7 linked regions of the Homo sapiens genome follow. The protein of the gene in region 1 purifies or fractionates together with the protein of each later gene. This does not show direct contact. Each region holds a gene or a part of one and is shown in the gene's direction. Other genes may lie near its edges. The genes, in order: KCTD15, GSTM2, RAB3B, PHGDH, HERC6, EHD2 and LRRTM2.

What was found.
Region 2: the proteins of KCTD15 (region 1) and GSTM2 purify together in Homo sapiens (affinity purification with mass spectrometry, with the first as the bait; one large-scale study listed by BioGRID). This does not show direct contact.
Region 3: the proteins of KCTD15 (region 1) and RAB3B purify together in Homo sapiens (affinity purification with mass spectrometry, with the first as the bait; one large-scale study listed by BioGRID). This does not show direct contact.
Region 4: the proteins of KCTD15 (region 1) and PHGDH purify together in Homo sapiens (affinity purification with mass spectrometry, with the first as the bait; one large-scale study listed by BioGRID). This does not show direct contact.
Region 5: the proteins of KCTD15 (region 1) and HERC6 purify together in Homo sapiens (affinity purification with mass spectrometry, with the first as the bait; one large-scale study listed by BioGRID). This does not show direct contact.
Region 6: the proteins of KCTD15 (region 1) and EHD2 purify together in Homo sapiens (affinity purification with mass spectrometry, with the first as the bait; one large-scale study listed by BioGRID). This does not show direct contact.
Region 7: the proteins of KCTD15 (region 1) and LRRTM2 purify together in Homo sapiens (affinity purification with mass spectrometry, with the first as the bait; one large-scale study listed by BioGRID). This does not show direct contact.

Annotation. Positions count from the first base shown.
Region 1 is NC_000019.10:33,795,492-33,799,669, forward strand, and holds the start of KCTD15 (BTB/POZ domain-containing protein KCTD15), read left to right. Parts: upstream 1-1,378; 5' UTR 1,379-1,496; intron 1,497-1,625; exon of another isoform or gene 1,626-2,903; intron 2,904-3,176; 5' UTR 3,177-3,179; coding exon of another isoform or gene 3,180-3,275; intron 3,276-4,102; coding exon of another isoform or gene 4,103-4,131; exon of another isoform or gene 4,132-4,178. UniProt on the Homo sapiens protein: During embryonic development, it is involved in neural crest formation. Inhibits AP2 transcriptional activity by interaction with its activation domain.
Region 2 is NC_000001.11:109,673,422-109,675,786, forward strand, and holds the end of GSTM2 (glutathione S-transferase Mu 2), read left to right. Parts: intron 1-1,325; coding exon 1,326-1,415; 3' UTR 1,416-1,865; downstream 1,866-2,365. UniProt on the Homo sapiens protein: Conjugation of reduced glutathione to a wide number of exogenous and endogenous hydrophobic electrophiles. Participates in the formation of novel hepoxilin regioisomers.
Region 3 is NC_000001.11:51,980,701-51,984,200, reverse strand, and holds part of RAB3B (ras-related protein Rab-3B), read left to right. Parts: intron 1-3,313; exon of another isoform or gene 3,314-3,500. UniProt on the Homo sapiens protein: The small GTPases Rab are key regulators of intracellular membrane trafficking, from the formation of transport vesicles to their fusion with membranes.
Region 4 is NC_000001.11:119,739,434-119,742,933, forward strand, and holds part of PHGDH (D-3-phosphoglycerate dehydrogenase), read left to right. Parts: intron 1-952; coding exon 953-1,085; intron 1,086-2,333; coding exon 2,334-2,464; intron 2,465-3,373; coding exon 3,374-3,500. UniProt on the Homo sapiens protein: Catalyzes the reversible oxidation of 3-phospho-D-glycerate to 3-phosphonooxypyruvate, the first step of the phosphorylated L-serine biosynthesis pathway.
Region 5 is NC_000004.12:88,437,852-88,440,724, forward strand, and holds part of HERC6 (probable E3 ubiquitin-protein ligase HERC6), read left to right. Parts: intron 1-2,022; coding exon 2,023-2,206; intron 2,207-2,296; coding exon 2,297-2,399; intron 2,400-2,873. UniProt on the Homo sapiens protein: E3 ubiquitin-protein ligase which accepts ubiquitin from an E2 ubiquitin-conjugating enzyme in the form of a thioester and then directly transfers the ubiquitin to targeted substrates.
Region 6 is NC_000019.10:47,737,422-47,740,527, forward strand, and holds part of EHD2 (EH domain-containing protein 2), read left to right. Parts: intron 1-3,106. UniProt on the Homo sapiens protein: ATP- and membrane-binding protein that controls membrane reorganization/tubulation upon ATP hydrolysis. Plays a role in membrane trafficking between the plasma membrane and endosomes. Important for the internalization of GLUT4.
Region 7 is NC_000005.10:138,868,421-138,871,009, reverse strand, and holds the end of LRRTM2 (leucine-rich repeat transmembrane neuronal protein 2 precursor), read left to right. Parts: 3' UTR 1-2,089; downstream 2,090-2,589. UniProt on the Homo sapiens protein: Involved in the development and maintenance of excitatory synapses in the vertebrate nervous system. Regulates surface expression of AMPA receptors and instructs the development of functional glutamate release sites.

The DNA of each region.
Region 1 (4,178 bases):
GGCGGTCGGGACCCAGGCGCCGTTCCGGCCCGTGCGCACCCGCCCCGCGGTCCCAGCCGGTCTCCGGCCCGGGCGTCCCTGGAGCCAGGCGGGGGCGCAGTGCCGGCCAGTCGCGCGCTCCGTTTCCTAGGAGCCGGGAAATGGTCGCCGAGGAGGAGGAGGAGGCACGGGCGGGGCGCAAAGGAAACAGGAGGAAGAGGAAGGGGAGGAGGAGTGGGAGTGGGAGAAAAGGAGGAAGGGGCGGCCGAAGCGGAGACTGGGGAGGGGCGTCCGGGGCGCGGACCTCGGCCGCGGGGAGTCTTGGCTGCCGCCGTCTCCATCGCGCCGCGCGCGTAAAGGAAATGGCGCGTCTAGCCGCGAGCGGTCGGCCCGGTGCCCCAGCGCGTCCCTCCCCCGCGGCGGCCGACCGCGTGTCCGCAGACGTCACGGGAGAGGGGCAGCGGGGCAGAGACCCTGGGAGGGCGGCCAGGGAGCGGGGGAGGGGCGGCCTGGCCCCCGGCTCCGCTCCAGCCCCGACCGACTGGCAGCCCAGTTTCTTCCCAAGTCCCGCCCCCAGCCCCGGGCGCCGCGGCGGCGGCTGCTCTCCTCTTTGTAACCGAGGAGTCAAGAAATGTGAGAAACGTGCCCTGTGTTACTTATTTGGGAGCCGAAAATTTATGCCCAGCTGAAAGCGCCCGGGGAAATATTACATCAGATGAAATGACAATGATTAAAATCAGCCTCTCCCCCGCCCCCTCCCCGAGCCCGGAGGAGGCCCGGGCGCCGCGTGGCCGGCCGGCGGGGGGCGGGGGGCTGGGCCGCGGAGGGCGCTGGGGCCTGGGCGCACCGCTCCCGGGAGGGTCCTGGCCGCGGCCCCGGCGGGAAGGCGCGGGCTTCGGGAGAGGCGGGTGGGGATCGCCCGGCGAAAGGAGGGGAAACGGCGCGTTTTTGTCGCCAGGCGCGGGCGCGCGGAGCTAATTGCGACTCTAATCCTCTGCCCCGCGGCGCAGCCGAGCCCCGAGCCAGGAGTCGCCGCGCGCGCCCGTTCGCGCTGGGTAATTTGGGGCCGGATCGCTGCCCTTTACGTCCGGGCTGGGCCGCGGCGAGGCGCTGGCTAGGGGCTGGAGTGGGGGGCTGGTTTTCTCTCCAGCAATCGAGGGAGGCCGCCGGAGAGAGAGGAGGGAGGAGAGGAGGTGGGAGCGGCGGGAGGGCAGCCGGAGAGCGGCGCGAGGAGGAGGCGGCGGCGGCGGAGGCGGCGGCCGCGAAGAGGGGAGGAGGCGAGGGGAGGGTGGGGAGGGGAGGCCCCGGCGCGCCGCGCCGCGAGGGGCCGCGTGAAGCGGGGGCCGGGGCGGGAGGGGTGGGTGGGGGGAGGGTTGGGGGCGAGAGAGAAAGTAACTCCAGGACGAGACCGGAGCGACCCGCGCAGCGAGCATAGGCGGCGAAGCTGCGCCCGGCGCCCGAGACCGGCAGCTGCGTGGGGCGGGGGCTGCGCCCGAGCCCGATCTGCCGGCTCCGAGGTAAGCTCAGCGCGGGCGGCCACCGCTCAGAGCCGCGCAACCCTGCCCCGAAGTGGCTGCGATACCGAGAAAGTCGCCCGGCCAGGGTCTGGACCTGGGCGGGGGCGGCCGCTTTGTCCCTCTGCTGGGCGGCGGGGGCTGGCGGCGCGGGGGTGCCCAGCACAAAGGCCTGGTGCAAGAGTGGGGTTGCCCACGTGGGCTGGTCCTGGCCGCGGGTGGACCCTCCCCACGCGGGCGGTCTCGGAGCTTCCTGCCGCGCGGTGTGTGTGTGTGTGTGTGTGTGTGTGTGTGTGTGTGCGCGCGCGCGCGCGCGCGCTTGTGGAGGTCCCCGCACTCTGGCCCCTGTTCTGGGCCGAGCGCCCTGCAGAGCTGGCGAGTTTCCGGGGTCAGAAACGGGCTCACGCAACTGGGGCTTCGGGATGCACAAGTCCCGGCTTGGCGCCCAAAATCAGAGAAAGTCTCCAGTGGGACAGATGTGCGTCCTCTGACGCCCACCCCACGAGTCCGAAACCTGGCAGGAGGGGCTGTCGCGCTGGTGGTGGTCCCGGGCGCGCAGGGTTTGGGGCTGGGAGAGGGGCCGCGATGGGAGGGATCGCCGCCTGCAGATCCGGTTCCCCGCTGCCCGCCCGCACCCCCTGACCTGGACGCGCGCACCCGGCACACACTCGCAAACACACCCGGGGGCGGACCCCCGCCTCTGCAGCGCCTTTCTGTCTTCCGGCGGCCCCCACCCGCGACTGCAGAAAGATAAGCTTCAAGTTTTCGCTCCGTATCTCAAATGTGCATGAAGGAATTTAACTGCACGAGTGAATAACAGCATTAGTTTCAATTAATTTTTTTTTAATCCCGGCAACAATAAACTTTGAGAACAAAAGCGCTTTTACGTCCTTAATTAGGCGAGCTTCCCATCTGTGGTCTCCAAGTGTCTGCCTCTTGATTTAACTTTGTCCCCGCCCCGCCTCCGCGGCAACCCCTCCCAGCCCAGCCCCGCGCTTCGGGTGCCGCGGCCACCCCGCCCCGCGGCGCCTCCAGCCTTGGCCCAAGCCCTCTCCCGTCGCCCCTAAGTTCACACCGGCCGGCTGGCTCCGCGGCGGAGGCGGGAGGGGGGGGGTGGGGAGGCTGGCGCGCACCAGGTGGCCCGCCTGCCTCTCCGGGGCCACCCCTGGGACAATTGTGCAGGCCCCCAGGACTTTCGCCCCGGGCCAGCGCCCTGAGTGCGGAGCCGAGGGGAGCTCGAGAGGCGCCTTCTGTTTACCTTTTATGGTTAAAATAACAGCTTAGCAAAGAAGCGACTTCAGAAGAAGCGATTTAGTGAAATCGTCTCAAGCTGCCGCAGCTCAGCCAGTTTAATCACCCCCAGAGAGCCGAACAACTGCGAGCGCAATGGGACACAAAATCATTTTGTGTGTAAATGAGCGTGGCATTCTGCTCACTTCTCTCTGCTCGGGCGGGCGGGGCTCGGCGGCGGGCGGGCAGGGACCCGGGTCTCCCGCCGCAGCTGGAGAAGCGGGTCACTACCGGGCCAGTTTGGAAACCTGTGGGCCCTCCCGACCGCTATCGCTGAGGCCCCTGCAACAGGCGGGCCAGGGCGCACTGGGGCTGGGTGCTGGGTTTGATGCTGGTGCTGGTGGAATGAACTTGTATCTCTCACTGCACCCACTTTTGTGCTTCTGACTTAAGCAGTGGTCTCGGAAAGAGGGTCGTGGTCCCGCACGGATGCGCTTGTTGGGAGAAACCTTGGAGATTCACGGCAAGGCGTAAAGCCTGGGGCTTCCAACGGTAAGTTTCTGGCTTGCCATGAACATCAGGTTGTTCTTGGGAGGGAAAAGGGGCTAAGAACAGAGTGGAGCGGCTTCTGTGATGGAGGCTTGGTGTTCACGTCACTTTGGAATAGTGTCCTGGTATTGGGGAAAACATCTTGCAGTCCGCTTTGATAGAATTTCAGCCAGAATTCCTTCCTGTTCAGTTTATCCTCAGCGCGTCTTCCCTTCTGACTCCTCCCCCAGCAGAGCCTCCTAGGGCAGGATAATCCATTCCTGAGGTCTGTTTTGGTTCTCAGAACTCCTTGAGCTAAGTGACCTGGTTTTGTTTTTTTAAGCTTGTAGAACTCAGGAATGCCAAAAGCAGTGGATTCTGAGTCCACAGGCCCCAGTGAGGGTATATATTAAACATCACTGTCTGCCCATTGCAACCTCCCACCCCAGTTTTATGTCAGGAAACTTGCCCGGGCACTCAGGGAGAGCAACCTTGCTTACATTTGCAGGATTTGATTCTGGTTGGATTAAAATTGGATATTGAATTTCAAGGCACAAATTTTGATCCCAGAGTTTTAATGGGAAAAAGCAATCCCATGGGTCCCAAGAATTTCAAGTGGTTTCTCTCTTAAAGGTTAAACCTTCGAGAGACGTCCAGGGTAGGTTTGTGGAAGCCAGTGTCTGTGGATGTGTGAAGGGGGGTGACTATTCACGTGCAAATCTCCTCTTTCCTCCCTTTTGAGACAGCTGTAAATCAGTGAACGGGGCTGCAGAATTCTGCCCCTCCTGCATAGGGCCTGCAAAGCGCCCCTGGGTGTGGCTTCCAGGGACTGAGGGACAATCTTATTTCAGGTGACTACGGCACAGAGGAGAGTTACTGAGTGCCTCTGGGGAGGAGCAGTAGAAAGGGTCCATTGGCTGATCTGCT
Region 2 (2,365 bases), on another chromosome or scaffold:
TTGAGGCATTTGTCCAACAGGCTTCTGAGCCTTGAATCTGTTTCCCTTTTCCACTCCCCATCAAGAGATCTGCTTGCTCAGCTAGTTCCCATCAGCTCTGGTTCTGCGGTTCTGGTCCAGGCTGAGTGGCCTTGGAGTTAGGTAAGAGGTGGTGGGAAGGGAGGGATGGAGGAGAGCTGAGAGCTATGGCCCGTTATGTGCCAGGGTCAAGCCTGTCACCCAGGCTGGAGTGCATTGGTGCGATCTTGGCTCACTGCAACCTCCGCTTCCTGGGTTCAAGCAATTCTCTGCCTCAGCCTACCAAGTAGCTGGGATTACAGGTGCCCGCCACCATGACCAGCTAATTTTTGTATTTTTAGTAGAGATGGGTTTTCACCATGTTGGCCAGGCTGGTCTCCAACTCTTGACCTCAGGTGATCCACTCGTCTCGGCCTTCCAAAGTGCTGGGATTACAGGTGTGAGCCGGATGTTTTTGAATACCTTATCTGGGCATTCAATCCTGGTAAGATTGTGCACAGCACATCTGAGTGTCATGTAGCCTGATCTGCAGCAGGGCTGGAGATGCCATGGGTTAGGGCACAGTGAGATTTTGCTAAGATACCAGATGGAGAACCTTGGACTTTCTGCTTTAAGGGGAATGATTAGAGCCTAGTCTCGCCTTTGATTTTCTTGTGCACTGCCACTCCCCATTCCACTTTCATCCAGGTTTTACTGAGACATTGGGTGAGTGTGTTCAGAGCCCCTTTGTTCTGCTGGAGGTCCCTTCTGTGTCTCTATACCCAGACAAGCCAAGAGCCTCCCTGTGGAAAAGGAGACTGTTTGTGCAGTCAAGGAGTGACAGGGCCTGGTGTGAGGGGTGGTGGGGCAGAAGAAGAAGAGAATTTGGCAGAAAGAGGCCAGAACTGGAGAGAGACAGAACCAGGCTACATTGAAGTTCTATTCCCCTTACTAGGTATTTAAATGTAAGGAAGTTGCTGAACTTCTGTTTCCCACATGACAAATGGTGATAATAGATTCAGCCTTGCAGAGTAGTCGAGTGGGTTTTCTAAGCTTACGTTGTAATTTCTCTTGGGTACAGAGCACCCAGCACCGTGTAGAATCTTCATAAGTGTTAGCTGTTACTGTGGTACAACATTACTTAAAGGAAGTTGGAAGAGTTAACTCCGCAGATCTGGGGACCCTAAGAAGCTGTGTGATGCCTCAGCACTTGAGCCCACATGGAAAGGCTGTGGCCAGGGCCCTGACCTGCTGTGTCTGCAGTGGGGTTGTGCCAGCCCTCATGGGCAGCTGACCTTGAGTTCTGGCCTTATTTTCCCCCCTCTCAGGGCTTGGAGAAGATCTCTGCCTACATGAAGTCCAGCCGCTTCCTCCCAAGACCTGTGTTCACAAAGATGGCTGTCTGGGGCAACAAGTAGGGCCTTGAAGGCCAGGAGGTGGGAGTGAGGAGCCCATACTCAGCCTGCTGCCCAGGCTGTGCAGCGCAGCTGGACTCTGCATCCCAGCACCTGCCTCCTCGTTCCTTTCTCCTGTTTATTCCCATCTTTACTCCCAAGACTTCATTGTCCCTCTTCACTCCCCCTAAACCCCTGTCCCATGCAGGCCCTTTGAAGCCTCAGCTACCCACTATCCTTCGTGAACATCCCCTCCCATCATTACCCTTCCCTGCACTAAAGCCAGCCTGACCTTCCTTCCTGTTAGTGGTTGTGTCTGCTTTAAAGGGCCTGCCTGGCCCCTCGCCTGTGGAGCTCAGCCCCGAGCTGTCCCCGTGTTGCATGAAGGAGCAGCATTGACTGGTTTACAGGCCCTGCTCCTGCAGCATGGTCCCTGCCTTAGGCCTACCTGATGGAAGTAAAGCCTCAACCACATTTGCTGTGTGTCTTGTCTTATTTGCTCCTGGCCATCTACCCAGACTGTCTGTCTGTCTGTCACTGCCTCTTCCAAGGGACTGGCTGGTGATCCTGGCAGTGGCTGGGTTCTAAAGGATTCTGCTGGGCATAGTAAGGCGCTTGAGAATTCTTGCTCCCATTCCTGAGAGACTCAGAGCAGGAAGCCCCATGAGGCACTGTGGAAAGGATGTCTCTTTCTTGGCCTGGATCTCCCATTCATTCATCCAGCCGTATTGAGTACTTTCCATAATTGCACAGAGCTTGTGTCTCATTGAATAGGACCCCAAGGGGGTGGAATCTCCATCAGAGAGAACCAGGGTCCCTTTTACCTTCTCCACTATATGACTGCATCACTTCTGTTAGGTCTCCAGGACCCAATCTCTATTGTTTTTCTCAGATGGCTTCCAGGTACCCTCTCCAGGCTTGCTGCACAGCTGTCATCAGGACGTTCTCTCTGGGTTTACTTCCTCTCTTTCCTG
Region 3 (3,500 bases), on another chromosome or scaffold:
CCTCCGCCTGCCAGGTTCAAGTGATTCTCCTGCCTCAGCCTCCAGAGTAGCTGGGATTACAGGCAGCCACCACCACGCCCAGCGAATTTTTTGTATTTTTAGTAGAGATGGGGTTTCACCATGTTGGCCAGACTGGTCTCGAACTCCTGACCTCGTGATTCACCCGCCTCAGCCTCCCAAAGTGCTGGGATTACAGGCATGAGCCACCGCGCCCAGCCCTTACTTTCTTTTCTTTTTTTTTGAGACAGTGTCTTGCTCTGTCACCCAGACTGGAGTGTAGTTGTGCAATCTTGACTCACTGCAGCCTCCGCCTCCTGGGTTCAAGCAATTTTTGTGCTTCAGCCTCCTGACTAGCTGGAATTACAGGTGTGCGCCACCACACCTGGCTAATTTTTATATTTTTAGTAGAGACTGGATTTCACCATGTTGGCCAGGCTGATCTTAAACTCCTGAGCTCAAATGATCCGCCTGCCTCGGCCTCACAAAGTCCTGGGATTATGGGCCTGAGCCACGGCACCTGGCCTCAAAATCTCATATTTTTGTAGTACTTTTGGTACTACTAAATTTTTGTAGTATTTAAGTACAGTCTTGCATTGCTAATGACAAGGATATGTTCTGAGGGATGTGTCATTAGCCGATTTCATAGTTGTATGAACATCATAGAGTATACTTACACAAACCTATATGGTATATGGTATAGCTTACTATACACATAGTCTATATGGAATAGATAGCCTATTGCTCCTAGGCTGCAAACCTGTACAGCATGTTACTGTATTGAATGTAGCAGGCAATTGTAACACAGTGGTAAGTATTTGTGTAGCTAAACACATCTAAACATAGAAAAGGTACAGTAAAAATATGATGGTTTTTTTTTTTGAGACCAAGTCTGGCTCTATCACCCAAGCTGGAATGCAGTGGTGCAATCTCAGCTCACTGCAACCTCAGCCTCCCGAGTAGCTGGGATTACAGGTATCTGCCACCATGCCTGGCTAATTTTTTGTATTTTAATAGGGATGGAGTTTCATCATGTTGGCCAGGCTGGTCTCTATCTCCTGACCTCAAGTGATCCACCCACCTTGGCCTCCCAAAGTGCTGGGATTACAGGTGTGAGCCACTGCACCCAGGCATAATATGGTATAAGAGATAAAAAATGGTACACCTATATAAGACACTTAACCATGAATGGAGCTTGCAGGGCCGGCAGTTGCTCTGGGGGAGTCAGTGAGTGAGTGGTGAGTGAATGTGAAGGCCTAGGACATTACCATACACTATAGGAGACTTTATAAACACTCTACACTTAGGCTACACTAAATTTATTTAAAAATATGTTTCTCCAATAATAAATTAACTTTGGCTTACTATAACTTTTAAACCTTATAAACTTAAAAAATTTTTAAAACTTCTTAGACTCTTTTATTTTTTATTTATTATTATTATTATTATTTTTTTGAGATTGAGTCTTGCTCTGTCACCCAGGCTGGAGTGCAGTGGATCTCTGCTCACTGCAACCTCCACCTCCCGAGTTCAAGCAATTCTTGTGCCTCAGCCTCCTGAGTAGCTGGGATTACAGGTGCGCACCACCACGCCTGGCTAATTTTTGTATTTTTAGTAGAGATGAGGTTTCACCATGTTGGCTAGGCTGGTCTTGAACTCCTGACCTTAAGTGATCTGCCTGCCTCGGCCTCCCAAAGTCTGGGGTTACAGGTCTGAGCCACCATGCCCAGCCATAGACTCTTTTATAACAACACTTAACTTAAAGCACAAATACACCGTATGGCCTTTTTTGAGATGAAGGCTCAGTGTGTCACCTGGATTGGAATGCAGTGGTGCAATCATGGGTCACTGCAGCCTCAAACTCCTTGGCTTGAGCGATCCTCCCACCTTGGCCTCCCAAAGTGTTGGGATTATAGGTATGAGCCACTGAACCTGGCCTTTTCTTTCTTTTCTTCCTTAGTTTTTAAATTTATGTTTAAAATTATTTTGTTAAAAAGGAAGACACAAATACACACACCTGAGCTTAGGCCTACACAGGGTCCAGGAGCATCAATATCACTGCCTTCCATTTCCATGTCTTGTCCCACTGGAAGGTCTTCAGGGGCAATAATAGGCATGGAGCTGTCATCTCTTATGGCAATATCTTCTTCTGGAATACCTCCTGAAGGACCTGCCTGAGGCTGTTTTACTGTTAACTTTTTAAAAAATATTAAATATAAATAGAAAAAGTACACTCTAAAATAACAATAAAAAGTGTAGTAAGTAAATACAGAAGCCAGTAACATAGTCATTTATTATCAATATCAAGTATTATGTATAGCACATAATCATATGTGCTATACTTTTATACAACTGGCAATGCAGTAGGTTTGTTTACACCAGCATCAACACAAATATGTGAGTAATGTGTTGTGCTACAATGTTACCATGGCTACTATGTCACTAGGCAATAGGAATTTTTCAGCTCCATTATAATCTTATGGGACCGCCATTGTACATGTGGTCTGTCATTGACTGAAATGTTGTTATGCAGTTCATGATTGTACTTTTAAAATTTAAGTGATTTGCTAAATGATAACATACCATATATTCTAGCCTATACCTTGTACATATGATGTCAGCTATTACAATATGCATAGAAGGTATAGACTAGAATGCATGGTATGTTATTTATATAGAAATAAAAAGTATAAATAGGTCTCTTTGCTTATATATGCAAGGGCTATCTCTGAAGGATATATAAATTGATAACATGTATGCCTCTGGGGAGGGGAACTGGATCAGGAATCAGAGATGGAAGCAAGACTTACTTTTCAGTGTAAACCTTTAGGTTTCATATTACTTGTATTTTATGCTAGGAATTAAGAAAATAATGCAGCTGGGTGTGGTGGCTCTCGCCTGTAATTCTAGCACTTTGGGAGGCCACGGAGGGCAGATCACTTGATCCCGGTTTAAGACCAGCCTGGACAGCATGGTGAAACCCCATCTCTACAAAAAGTACAAAAATTAGCTGAGCATGGTGGCACATGCCTGTAGTCCCAGCTACTCGGGAGGCTGAGGTAAGAGGATTGCTTGAGCCCAGGAGATCAAGACTGTAGTGAGCCAAGATAGTGCCATTGCACTCCAGCCTGGGCGACAGAGAGAGACCCTGTCTCAAAATAAAATAAAATAAAATAAAAATAATAATAATTGAGCTACAGCTGGTAAAAAAGGTAATACTTGCAAATAGGATATGCTTGAATTATTTTCCGTAAGTATGTATTACCTTTTAAATTAACAAATAAAACATAGTATTAAAATAGATGGCTTTTTTTTAAAGTACAATTTCCATTTTATTTTTCTCCAGGAAATAGTCCATCTTCAGTCTTTAAGGACTCAGCTCCTTACATGGGCTTTGGTGGGGGTCGTGGGGCAGCACCTACAGGTCTAAATCAGGGTGGGGGTGTTTGGTCCTTGCGGGCTTCATGAGATCGATTCCTGACTACTTTGCTGTGAATTGCACA
Region 4 (3,500 bases), on another chromosome or scaffold:
AGAAGCCTGCAGACCTGTCACCTCCCACACTGGAGAGGCTCCCGTGAAGCCCGGCCTCAGCAGTCATTTCCCATACCATGATTCTTTCTCTGTTTAAAAAAAAAAAAATTCTTCCAATGATATCTTTATGAAAACAGAAAGAGAAGCATCTGTGTTTCCTTCTAATTACATCTTGTAGCTGCCTGTTTGATTTGCATCTTTCTAAGATGGTTGACTTTACAAGTTATCTCAATAAAAGTGGCCAGATGCCTAACTCAGAACCAGAGCATTTTGAACCACAAAATGGAATTGAAATTTTGGCCCAGAACAAGCTGGTTCTGTTATCAGGCCCCTGGGTGGGGCAGGGGGCAGCCAGCCAGGTCCTAGACATAACTTTTGGGGGATATGGGGCTTGTGTCCCCTCAGTGTCACAACATGCCTCACAGTGGACTTCGCATGCGTTGATATTTGAAGCACGATCATCAAAACTTTGTGATAATTGATCGTAGTGTTTAGTAACAATGTAAACACTTAAAAAAATTCAAGATAGAAAATAAAAATGAAGGCAAGTTGGGACTGCCAGAGAAGACCCGTCACTCCTCATCCAAGTTATCTGCGACTCCCATATGTTTTGTGTCAAAGACTCACCTTTATTGTGCTGTCCAATCCCTTCCCCAGTGCAGAAACAAGTCTCCCATGGAGGGGGCTGGGGCAGACACAGTTTGCTGAAAGGAGCAATTTTGAGTGGTTGTGGCATTCTGTGTCCATTTCTGGCTCCACAGCTTTCTTCATTTGTAGGAACAAGTCCTTGTCCTGTTGTTAGTGGCTGATGGAAGTTGTCACCCACCAGGCACCAAGGCAGGAGTGACCCTATACTGTCTTTCTTGTGGAGCTGGGTCTTGGCAGCCAGATCTTGATTCAGGATCTGCCATGCCTCTTCCTGACCACAGCCCCGCTCCTCCATCCTCTGCAGGTGAATGCCCAGGCCCTTACCAGTGCCTTCTCTCCACACACCAAGCCTTGGATTGGTCTGGCAGAAGCTCTGGGGACACTGATGCGAGCCTGGGCTGGGTCCCCCAAAGGGACCATCCAGGTGATAACACAGGGTGAGCTGGGGACCTTGCAGAGGGAGGGGGAGGAGGGGATGAGGGAGTGTGGGATCTGCCCTGCTGGGTGTATTTGCTGCAGGACACAGGGTTAGTGAGAGGCAGTGAGGGTGCCTTGGACCCTGCCCTGAGTATAGCTCCCTTACTACTGGTGGGAGGGTGGTAAAGGGAGGGGTTAAAAAAAGTCGTTGGAAAGATGTACTGAATATTCATAAATCATGTTTATGTAGCATTTTTAAGACCTAGATATTTTGGGTGCAAGAGAAACCTCTACGAGAGAGAGAGTTTCATGCGAGAGGTCGTAGGATGGCTGGAGGGAGGCCCTAATTAAGCAACAGGATGCTGGATTCTGGTTTTTGGCCCTGTCTCTTCCCTGCTGTGTGACTCTCCCTTCTGAGGCTTGGATTCTTCACTTGTAAAGTGAGAGTTAGGGGCAGATGAGCCAGGAGCGGTGAGGACACTTTGTGCTCTGTAACTTACTAAGGTGGTACCTTGGGCCGTCTGACAGCCCTCGAGAGAGAGTTTGCTCAGCCGTGGAGTGGGAATGAGAACAGTGCCCTCTGACCACCCCTCGGGCTGCTGAGTGGGCTGTGGCCACCTTTGCAGTGGATCCAGTACTGTGCGGATGTGGTTGAGTGACCAAGGAGGGCTCCAGTTTCCTTAACCCTGTAGACGTGTATCTTTCCCCATGGACTCTTGGGTGTCTCACAGTTGGGCAGAGATTGCAGGGAGAGGGCAGCTAAACCCTAGGCATTGACAATACCAGGGAAGGGCAGAGCCAGGGGGTCCCACTGGCCTGGGTGTCCAAGCGCCGAAGGAAACAAGGCAGGGAGCTGGGCAGCAGTTGCTTCGGTTACTTCTTTCTGCTTTGATTTCCTGAGGCTGGCAAGGCTCTGAGTGCCAGGAAGGGGTAAGAGTAGGGAATTTTCCTGTGTCCCCTGGGAGAATAATAGGTAGGCCAGGATGGCCAAGCCAGGTGCAGGGTTGGGGAGCGGAGTGGAGTTGAGCTGAGTTTTGGAGAGGAGTTTCTCAGGGTGGTTAAAACATCCTGGGTTTCCTGGCTTGGGCCCAGATTATGCCTCTTCTGAGCCCACTGAAGGGCGAGTGGACCTGCCTGGAGCAAGCTGCCTTTGGGGTCCCCAGGGCAGCGAGGAGCCCATAGTCCAGAGCTAGGTGCCAGTGGCTTCCTGCCCCCTCCTGTAGTGCTCAACAAACAGTGACCTCATGGTAGCTTCTCTCTGTCCCCAGGAACATCCCTGAAGAATGCTGGGAACTGCCTAAGCCCCGCAGTCATTGTCGGCCTCCTGAAAGAGGCTTCCAAGCAGGCGGATGTGAACTTGGTGAACGCTAAGCTGCTGGTGAAAGAGGCTGGCCTCAATGTGCGCCCCTCTCCCCCACGCTGCCTCCCCATCCCTGTCAGCACTAGTCTTCTCCCCCACATTTCCAGAGCCCGTTCTCTGAGCGGAGGCCTAGGTCCCAGCCTTGCATCGGCCTGTCTACCTGTGAGGGGTAGCTGCAGTTTCTTCAACTGCAAAATGAAGATACTGCCTGGCCCCGAGTGTTGCTAATGGCACTGCTTTGTGTATGAGTGCTGTGGGAATGGAGGCAGTAGAAGTGTCCCCATTTCACAGCCAAAGAAAATGACGAGCTAGTGTGTTTGACTCTGCCCGACATGGCTGCCAGGCCATGTTTGACTCTGCCTAACTCCCCTCAGGGCTCCTCATGCCGTAGCACCCGGGTTCTTGATTCACTTGCAAGCTCTAGGAGCCCTGCTGCCTTGCACGGCTTCCCGTTGGCGCCTTCCCCTCTGGTTCCCTGTTTAGATCAAAGTCTGTTTCAAAGCCTGTTGCTCAGCCAGTGGGAGCTGGCAGAAGGGATAGGCAGTAGAGCTGCCATGTCCTCACCCCTCTGCTCCCCTCCACTCCTGCATGCCAGTCATGCCACTGATGCCGTGCAGGAGGCTGTGTCAGAGCAGGAGGGGCCAGAGTGGAGTCTCCTCACAGCCCTGCCTCCCTGCTTTTCTTTCCTCCCTGTTTTCCTCCAAGCCTTCGCCTGTGCCTGGCAGATCTCTTTGCCCTCCCTTTAAGGAGATCATTGGCTGTTCCAGGAAGCTGATGCCGAAGGGCACACAGCTTGGCCCATTTGCCCTCTCCCTTCTGGTCCTGAATTACTGAGCACATTATCCAGGCTGGAGCCCTACATCCTACCAATGGGTGATTTGGCCAAGAGAGGAGGGTGGACGTGGTGCAGCCAGGAGGTGTAACAGTCACCTTGCCTTCTCCACACAGGTCACCACCTCCCACAGCCCTGCTGCACCAGGGGAGCAAGGCTTCGGGGAATGCCTCCTGGCCGTGGCCCTGGCAGGCGCCCCTTACCAGGCTGTGGGCTTGGTCCAAGGCACTACGCCTGTACTGC
Region 5 (2,873 bases), on another chromosome or scaffold:
AAATGTATTTTTAAATATGGTTCACACCTGTAATCCCAGCAATTTGGGAGGCTGAGGTGGGTGGATCACTTGAGGTCAGGAGTTCAAGGCCAACCTGGCCAACATGGCGAAACCCCGTCTCTACTACAAAAATTAGCCAGGTGTGGTGGCACATGCCTGTAGTCTCAGCTACTAAGGAGGCTGAGGATTGCTTGAACCCAGGAAGTGGAGGTTGCAGTGAGCCGGGATTGCGCAACTGCACTCAAGCCTGGGCAACAGAGTGAGACTGTGTCTCAAAAAAAAAAAAAAAAAAAAAAAGCATTTTAGCTTCTCAGGTGATTGTTTTAGCTCCTAATCTTTTAGAAAAAAGAAGCTTTTAAGATAAAAGAAAAGGAGAAAGAATTCAGGGTTCAATATTTCCTTTGTAGCTCTTTTTACTATTTATTCATTTAGCAAATATTTTTGAGCCCCTATTCTGTACCAGACTCTATTCTAGGTGCTGGAGATACAGTAGTCAAAAAGACAGACAAAATTTGGAGCTTAAATTCCAGTGGGGCAGAAAGACAATACACAAATGAATCATTATTATTTTTAATAGAGATGGAGTCTTGCCATGCTGCCCAGGCTGGTCTCGAATTCCTGAGCTCAGGCAGTCCTCACACCTCAGCCTCCCAAAGTACTGGGATTACAAGGGTGAGCCACCGCACCTGGCCACAAATGAATTATTATGTAATATAATGTCAGATAAGGATGAGCACTCTGAAGAAAATTAAAACTGATTAAGAAACTAGGGAGTTCCAGGTGGTGGTATGCTGGAGCTCACTAGTACCAGCTTGTGAGAGCTGATTGTTAAATTTTCAAAAATGTTAAGAGTTTATTATCAAAGTATTAGTAGCTGAAAATCAGCCACAGTGGGAATATTAACACCACAGAAATTCGCCAATGCTGCAAATGTGTGTCCCCTCCCCTCCCACTCCTTTTCAGAGAGCTGGTTGTTAGATATTTACCAGCACACCAATGGTTACAGGGGAAGGCAGACAAGAGTTGATTTAGATAGGCTAGTCCACAAAGGCTGCCCAAAGTGTGGGAGACAATCATGTCTCTGATGGAAATGCCTCCAGTAGCAACCCTGCCATCAGGAAATTAATCATTTAGTAGAAATTACATCCTGTAGTATAAGACAGACCTTGCAGGAATAATTTTCACAAAGTGACATGTGTTGTGAGAGGGGACAAGCAAAGGAACAAAAGGATCAACCCTGAGAAAGTCTTACTTATATTGAAATCTAATGGATGGTAGAAGTTATCAGGTAAAGAAGAAATGCTGCATTCTGTGGCCTAACTACAAAAGAGAGACAAGACCTATGAACGGGGCCAGAAGTGAAAATGGAAGTGGGAGCTGGGCACCATGGTGCATACTTGCAGTCTCACCTACTCAGGAGGCTGTGGCGGGAGGTTCGCTTGAGGCCAGGAGTCCAAGTCCAGCCTGGGCAACACAGGGAGACCCCATCTCTTAAAAAAAAGAAAGAAAAAGAAAGGAAAGAGAAAGAAAGAAGAAAGAAAGAAAAGGGAAGGGAAAGGGAAAGGGAAGGGAAGGGAAAGGAAAGAAAGAAAGAAAGAAAATGGAAGTGGGAAGAGGCCCCTTGCTGAGACTGGCAAGGTCAGATAATTGAGGGAGGAGCTAGGCTTGGGAAGGCCTGTTGATCCCTGCTAAGGAGGTTTGGAATTTACCCCAAGGGCAATGGGAAGCCTTTGAAAGACTTTAAGCAAGAGAATGACATATTCAGATTCATGTTTTAAAAAAATCCTCCTGACTGCAGTGAGGAAAGTGAGCCAAATAGTTTTAAACCTTCTGATTATATTTTCTAAATTTCTTTCTTCTAGCTGACCAGGTTTTGGTCACAATACAACATTCTTGTGCTATATAGAAGTAATTTACTTTTCCTTCTCAATAGAAATAGTAAAAAGAACAAAGTATAAAATCTTTTAATCATTGGCCTTTTCCTTCCTTTCTTTTTTTTTTTTTTTTTTTGCTTCCCTCAAGGAGAGACTATGTTTCTAAGTATATTGATTACATTTTCAACGTCTCTGTAAAAGCAGTTTATGAGGAATTTCAGAGAGGATTTTATAGAGTCTGTGAGAAGGAGATACTTAGACATTTCTACCCTGAAGAACTAATGACAGCAATCATTGGAAATACTGATTATGACTGGAAACAGTTTGAACAGGTAGGTGATACCTAAAGTGCCCCAATTTTTCCGAACAACTTCTATATATTCCACCCCACTCAAATCATTTTTCTCCCTCTTTCTCTCAAGAATTCAAAGTATGAGCAAGGATACCAAAAATCACATCCTACTATACAGTTGTTTTGGAAGGCTTTCCACAAACTAACCTTGGATGAAAAGAAAAAATTCCTCTGTAAGTACTGTGGTACTAGATGGACACATAATTATGTATCTTTTAAAAAGGTACAGTCTTGTTTAGAATGAAGCCATTGAAGTGGCCTCATTGTCTGGGGTGACACCCAAGGTTCTTTGTCTCACAGCCATGGAGATCAAGGACATGGACACACACAAAGGGTGAGGTATAGAGCAGAAACTTAATAGGCGAAAAGAGAATAGCTCTCTGCTACAGAGAGGGGTCCCAGAAAAATGAGTTGCTGATCTGTGGTGAAATGCAGGGTTTTTTATAGATGAGCTAGTGAGGAGGTGGTGTCTGATCTACATAGGGCATGAAAAACGAGTTAGGACCAGGTGTACCATCCGCATAGGGCACGAATCTCTGGCAGCCCCTACCCCAATCTTTGATTATACAGGTGGGTAGCTACTCCATGGTGCTTCTTTCTTACTGTGCATGTGCTAAAAAAGGGGGGAGGTGGAACCCCCATGGTGG
Region 6 (3,106 bases), about 14 Mb from region 1:
CAAGGCGGGTGGATCACCTGAGGTCAGGAGTTCGAGACCAGCCTGGCCAACATGGTGAAACCCCGTCTGTACTAAAAATACAAAAATTAGCTGGGCATGGTGTTGCGTGCCTGTAGTCCCAGCTACTGGGGAGGCCGAGGCAGGAGAATCCCTTGAACCCGGGAGGCAGAGGTTGCAGTGAGCTGAGATCACACCACTGCAATCCAGCCTGTGTGACCGAGTAAGATTCTGTCTCAATAAATAAATAAATAAAATAAAATATATACGTTTAAAAATTTATTTATATATTTTTTAGAGATTTATTTATATATTTTTCAGAGACTCTGTTGTCCAGGCTGGAGTGCAATGGGGTGATCATAGCTCACTGTGTACTTGAACTCCTGGGCTCAAAGGTCCTTCTGCCTAGCCTCTAGAGTAGCTGGGACTACAGGCACATGCCACCATGCCTGGCTAGCTTTTTTTTTTTTTTTTTTTTTTGAGACAGAGTCTCACTCTGTCACCCAGACCGAACTGCAGAGGCGTGATCTTGGCTCACTGCAACCTCTGCCTCCTGGGTTCAAGCAGTTATCTCACCTCAGCCTCCCAAGTAGCTGGGCCTGCAGGCATGTGCCACCACGTACAGATAATTTTTCATACTTTTAGTAGAGATGGGGTTTTGTCATGTTGGCCAGGCTGGTCTCGAACTCCTGGCCTCAAGTGATCCTCCTGCCTTGGCCTCCCAAAGTGCTGGGATTATAGGCAGGAGCCACCATGCCTGACCAAGAACACTTTCTAGAACAGAGCTGTCCAGCAGTACGTTCTACAATGATGGAAATGTTTCATTCTGCACTGTCCAGTATGGTAGCCACTAGCCACATTCAAATGGAATGTTAACGTGTATTTCTTTTTTCTTTTTTTTTGAGATGGAGTCTTGCTCTGTTGCCCAGGTTGGAATGCAGTGGCAAGATCTTGACTCACTACAACCTCTGCCTCCCGGGTTCAAGCAATTATCCTGCCTCAGCCTCCCAAGTAGCTGAGATTACAGGCATCCGCCACCACGCCCAGCTAATTTTGTATTTTTGGTAGAGATGGGGTTTCACCATGTTGTCCAGGCTGGTCTCAAACTCCTGACTTCAGGTGATCCTCCTGCCTTAGCCTCCCAAAGTGCTGGGATTGCAGGCATGAGCCACTGCGCCCGGCCTGTATTTCATTTTAATTAATGTAAATAAGCACATGTGGCTAGTGGCTGCCATACTGGACAGGCTAACAGTAGAAGCTGCACATGCAACCTGTGCTTGCCTCAGTGGACTTGAACTTAGTCATACTCTGGCTGCCAGGGAATCCAGGTTGCAACCTAGGATCCCCAACCCTTCAGAGTCGTGATCAGCTGGCCTCTCTGCCTTGGCTCAGGAAATTCACATAGGGCTGTGAAAGGAATCCATTTTCGCAGAGACTGTCCTGGTGCAGTCTGGGCCACTTAGAGTAGCCCGTGTGAGAAGCAGTGTGACGCCAAGTCCACCCCTACACCCCAAAGTGACTTCTTCGGTGGGGAGGGGGTGGTCCCAGGAACCCCTGATGATCTGATCATCTCAAATCTCACCTCCAAATTTGGCAGCCAGCCACTCAGTCCTTTCTGTGTGGTGTGGTAGCACTGTGACAGGAATTAAGCTTTCTTAACTTTCTTTTTTCTCTCCCCCCCTGCACACTTTTTTGTTTTGAGACAGGGTCTTGCTCTGTCACCCAGGCTGGAGTACAGTGTGGTGCTATCTTCGCTCACTGCAACCTCTGTCTCCTGGGGTTCAAGAGATTCTGTCTCAGCCTCCCAAAGTAGTTGGGACTGCAGGCGTGCACCACCACACCTGGCTAATTTTTAATTTTTTTTTTTTTTTTTTTTTTTTTTTAAGAAATAGGGTTTTGAGGCCAGGTGCAGTGGCTCATGCCTGTAATCCCAGCACTTTGGGAGGCCGAGGTGGGCAGATTGCCTGAGGTCAGGAGTTCGAGACCAGCCTGGCCAACATGGCGAAACCCCATCTCTACTAAAAATATGAAAATCAGCTGGGCATGGTGGTAGGCGCCTGTAATCCCAGCTACTTGGGAGTCTGAGCCAGGAGAATCGCTTGAACCCATGAGACGGAGGTTGCGGTGAGCTGAGATCGCGCCATTGCACTCCAGCCTGGGTGACAGAGCGAAACTCGTCAAAAAAAAAAAAAAAAAAAGGAAAGAAAAGAAAAGAAATAGGGTTTTGCCATGTTGTCCAGGCTGGTCTTGCACTCCTGGGCTCAAGTGATTCTCCCACCTCAGCCTCCCAAAGTGCTGGGATTACAAGTGTGAGCCACCCAAGCCTGCTGAGTTTTTTTTTTTTTAACTTTTAATGTTGTACGTGCTGGCTGGGCAGCTGGAGTTGGGTAGAGGGCGGTTAGGGTTCTAGGCTGGTGTGGATGCTCTGAGAAAGCTATACTTGATGCGAAAATATTGAAATCCTTCTCTGCTAGCTGGCAAAGGGCCGCTGCTCTCACTCATCAGAGGGGCCCCAGCCTCCCCACCCTCCAGTAATTCTGGGGCACAGGAGAAAGCCTCTGGGACCTTGTTGCCCAAGTATCTTCTCATTGGTGGGTGCCCGAGCGGAACAGGTTGTTCAGATGTTCAAATACTTCTGCATGTGTCAGTAAAGAGCTGCCACTCTGGCTGGGTACAGTGGCTCACACCTGCAATCCCAGCACTTTAGGAGGTTGCGGTGGGAGGATGGCTTGAGCTCAGGAGTTCGAGACCAGCCTGGGCAACATAGCAAGACTTGGTCTCTACAAAAAATTTTTAAAACTAGTTGGGCGTAGTGGCGCACACCTATAGTCCCAGCGAATTGCGGGGGCTGAGGAGGGAGGATCACAAAAATTTAGCTGGGTGGGTGGTGTGTGCCTGTGGTCCCAGCTACTTGGGAGACTGAGGCCAGAGGATCGTTTGAGGCTGGGAGTTGGAAGCTGCAGTGAGCTATGTTGGCACCACTGCACTCTAGCCTAAGTGACAGAGCGAGACCCTGTCAAAAAAAAACAAAACAAAACAAAACAAAAATGGCTGGGCGCGGTGGCTCATGCCTGTAATCCCAGCATTGGGAGGCTGAGGCGGGCGAATC
Region 7 (2,589 bases), on another chromosome or scaffold:
GTGCTCTTTTTTAAGGTGGGCAGATTAGTTTGTCAAAGTCTCAGCCCAGTTCAATTCAGTTGATCTCGAGTGGTGAGTATTTTGTCTCTTGTTAAACCAGACCCTGGGCTTGTCTGGGCAGAGACAGAAGCTGATTTAACAGCATAGAGCACAGCGCCCTACTTCCCCACAGACAGGCTGAATTAGAAGCCCCTATTACAAATAAGAGCACCACGAGCTAAAATTTACCAACCCATTTATCAGGATGACCATTGCCATTTGTCAGGTGACAGACAGCTTGGTCACAACACAACTGTGTCCTGAGCACACAAGATTCCATCAGCCCTGAAGGACAGCAGAGGAGTATTTTCCATCATTTCAAACCACAAACAAAATTAAGATTTAAACTGTGGGATGGGTAAGAAATCCCCTTCTTTGGCTGGGAATCTCCACCTTAATCCTTAAAGGACCATAACTGGCAAAATCCTTAGTGTACGGACAAAAGCAAATTGGAAAAGCCAGCCATTTACTAATTCAGAGGAACAGCATAGCCAAGGCTAGCGAGGCATACTTTCCAGTTGAAAAAAATCAAAATTTTTTGCCTTCCATTTTTCTGGGTAATGTCCTTTAAGAAAAGTGAATGACAGTAGTACCAAAAAGGTATTTTCCTTTCTCATTTAAAAGCAAAAACCTCCCTTTTTAATTGCCTGTAGAAGGCAAGATTTTCTTTCATTTTTGTCCATTTGTGTTTCAGAATCAGCACAGGTTTGAAGATTAGACTGTTAGTCATCTGTGCTTTCTTTACCAACTGGCTAGAACGGAACAGCATCACAGCAACGCTGCGGATCTTGGTTACACAGTGTCAGAGCTTTTGTTTTTTGATGGGGTTTTATCCTCTTCACCACCACTACCCACTCCATTTTTTTTCTATTTTTAAGATTAGAGGAAAATGACCATTAAGAACCAGAAAAATAATTAATCTCTCTGGAAAAAGGAAAGCTAAAGAAGACTATGATACCATACCCATCTAGAAACCAAGAACTAGTTTGAAATCGTTTATATTCATTTCTGTAGCATGACAGGGATTTCAATCACCTTTCTGAAAAGAGTGGGCTGATAAACTTGTAAATCCACACACAACTCTGAGAATACCCACTGCCAGCATCAAAAAGCAAAGATACTAATTTTTTAAGCCAAAAATCTGTACTAACACATGTAATTTCTTAATGTGCCTAAGTTAATTTCTGTATCAATTCAATAAATGGAATTGACTGAACTTCCCAACGCCACTAATTATTAAAATCCATCTGCTTATTCTAATGCTAGTCACCAAGAGCTAGACTCCATCTTTCCAATAAAAATGAGCCCTATGTAGCACTAGGTTTGAATTCTAAAATTCAAAACAGGCATTTCATTTTCTTAAGGCACACTTCCTACACACAGCTATCAGGGGAAAAAGCTATAAATGTCCTGTTCTTTTTCTGAAGTGTGGATATCAATATAAAATTTGTTAAAGAATATTTTTAACAGCTGACTTACATGATCGTTTTCCTAATACAGGAATACAGCGACAGACCTATCTGAAAAGTCTGTTTGGGGGCATACTTTTCATATCTTATTGACTAAAGCCCTTGAGCCAGGAAAAAAAAAAAAAAAGAGAGAGAGACAGTAAGGCCATCTATAGATAATTAAATATTTCTCTATCTAACCTGGGGCAAACTCATAGTACTTGAATAAGGCCAAAAACAAATAGAAAATTACTGTTTAAGCTTTCATTCTGCTATTGCAAACATTTGGAAACCTCTGCAACTCTTTCAACTAACATTTTTGTCCTTAGCGGTTTTTTTTTTTTTTTTTAAGTCTGATATATGGAATGTTTGGTGAACCTTCCTATCAACACTGAGACTGGAAACTCAAAGTACAGTCCAAATACATTGTGTTCAATCACCTTCAAGAGCCATTTTTCTTTTTGGGTGGGAGGTGGGCAGATGGGTTGAGGGTGGGAAGAAAATACTATTATGCAGGGTGTTTTGGGAGGGGGGAGGGTAACATAAAGAGCAGTGTACAGGCAAGTTTTGTTATTAAAATTGTGTATACTGTAAAAAGTGAATGCCTTCTTTTTACTTTTCCTTGATAACCTATCAATTTTGACATGTGAAACTTGAAAAGCCATTTGTGACAGACATAGAAATCTTAAATGAACAGTTGTTTTATTCCATGTTCCTCTACAATGTCAAATGTGTCCACTGAAAAAAGGGGCAGCTAATCATTACCTGTCTTCAGAGAGAGGTAAAACTAGGATAAGAAGAAAGTAAAGGTAAAGTGGTGAGAAGGGAGAGTGCCTAAAAAGCTGTCATGCAGTAAGAAGCTGCTCTGTCAAGAGCCTGAGCAAGTGGACAAACAACTGTCCCAGGCTCACAGGGCATGGAGTTGGCTGCCCCTCTCTGAATCCTCCATTACAGTGAACTAACACCACAGAGAGCTTCGGAAAGGTACCAATTGCCTGTATCTAGCCAACAGCGACTTGGCCTCTACCTTGGGGGTTGGTTGATGTCCATCCCAGCAGCACCTTCCATGCCACTCCTAGGAGGGAGGTCCCACAGGTGCTTA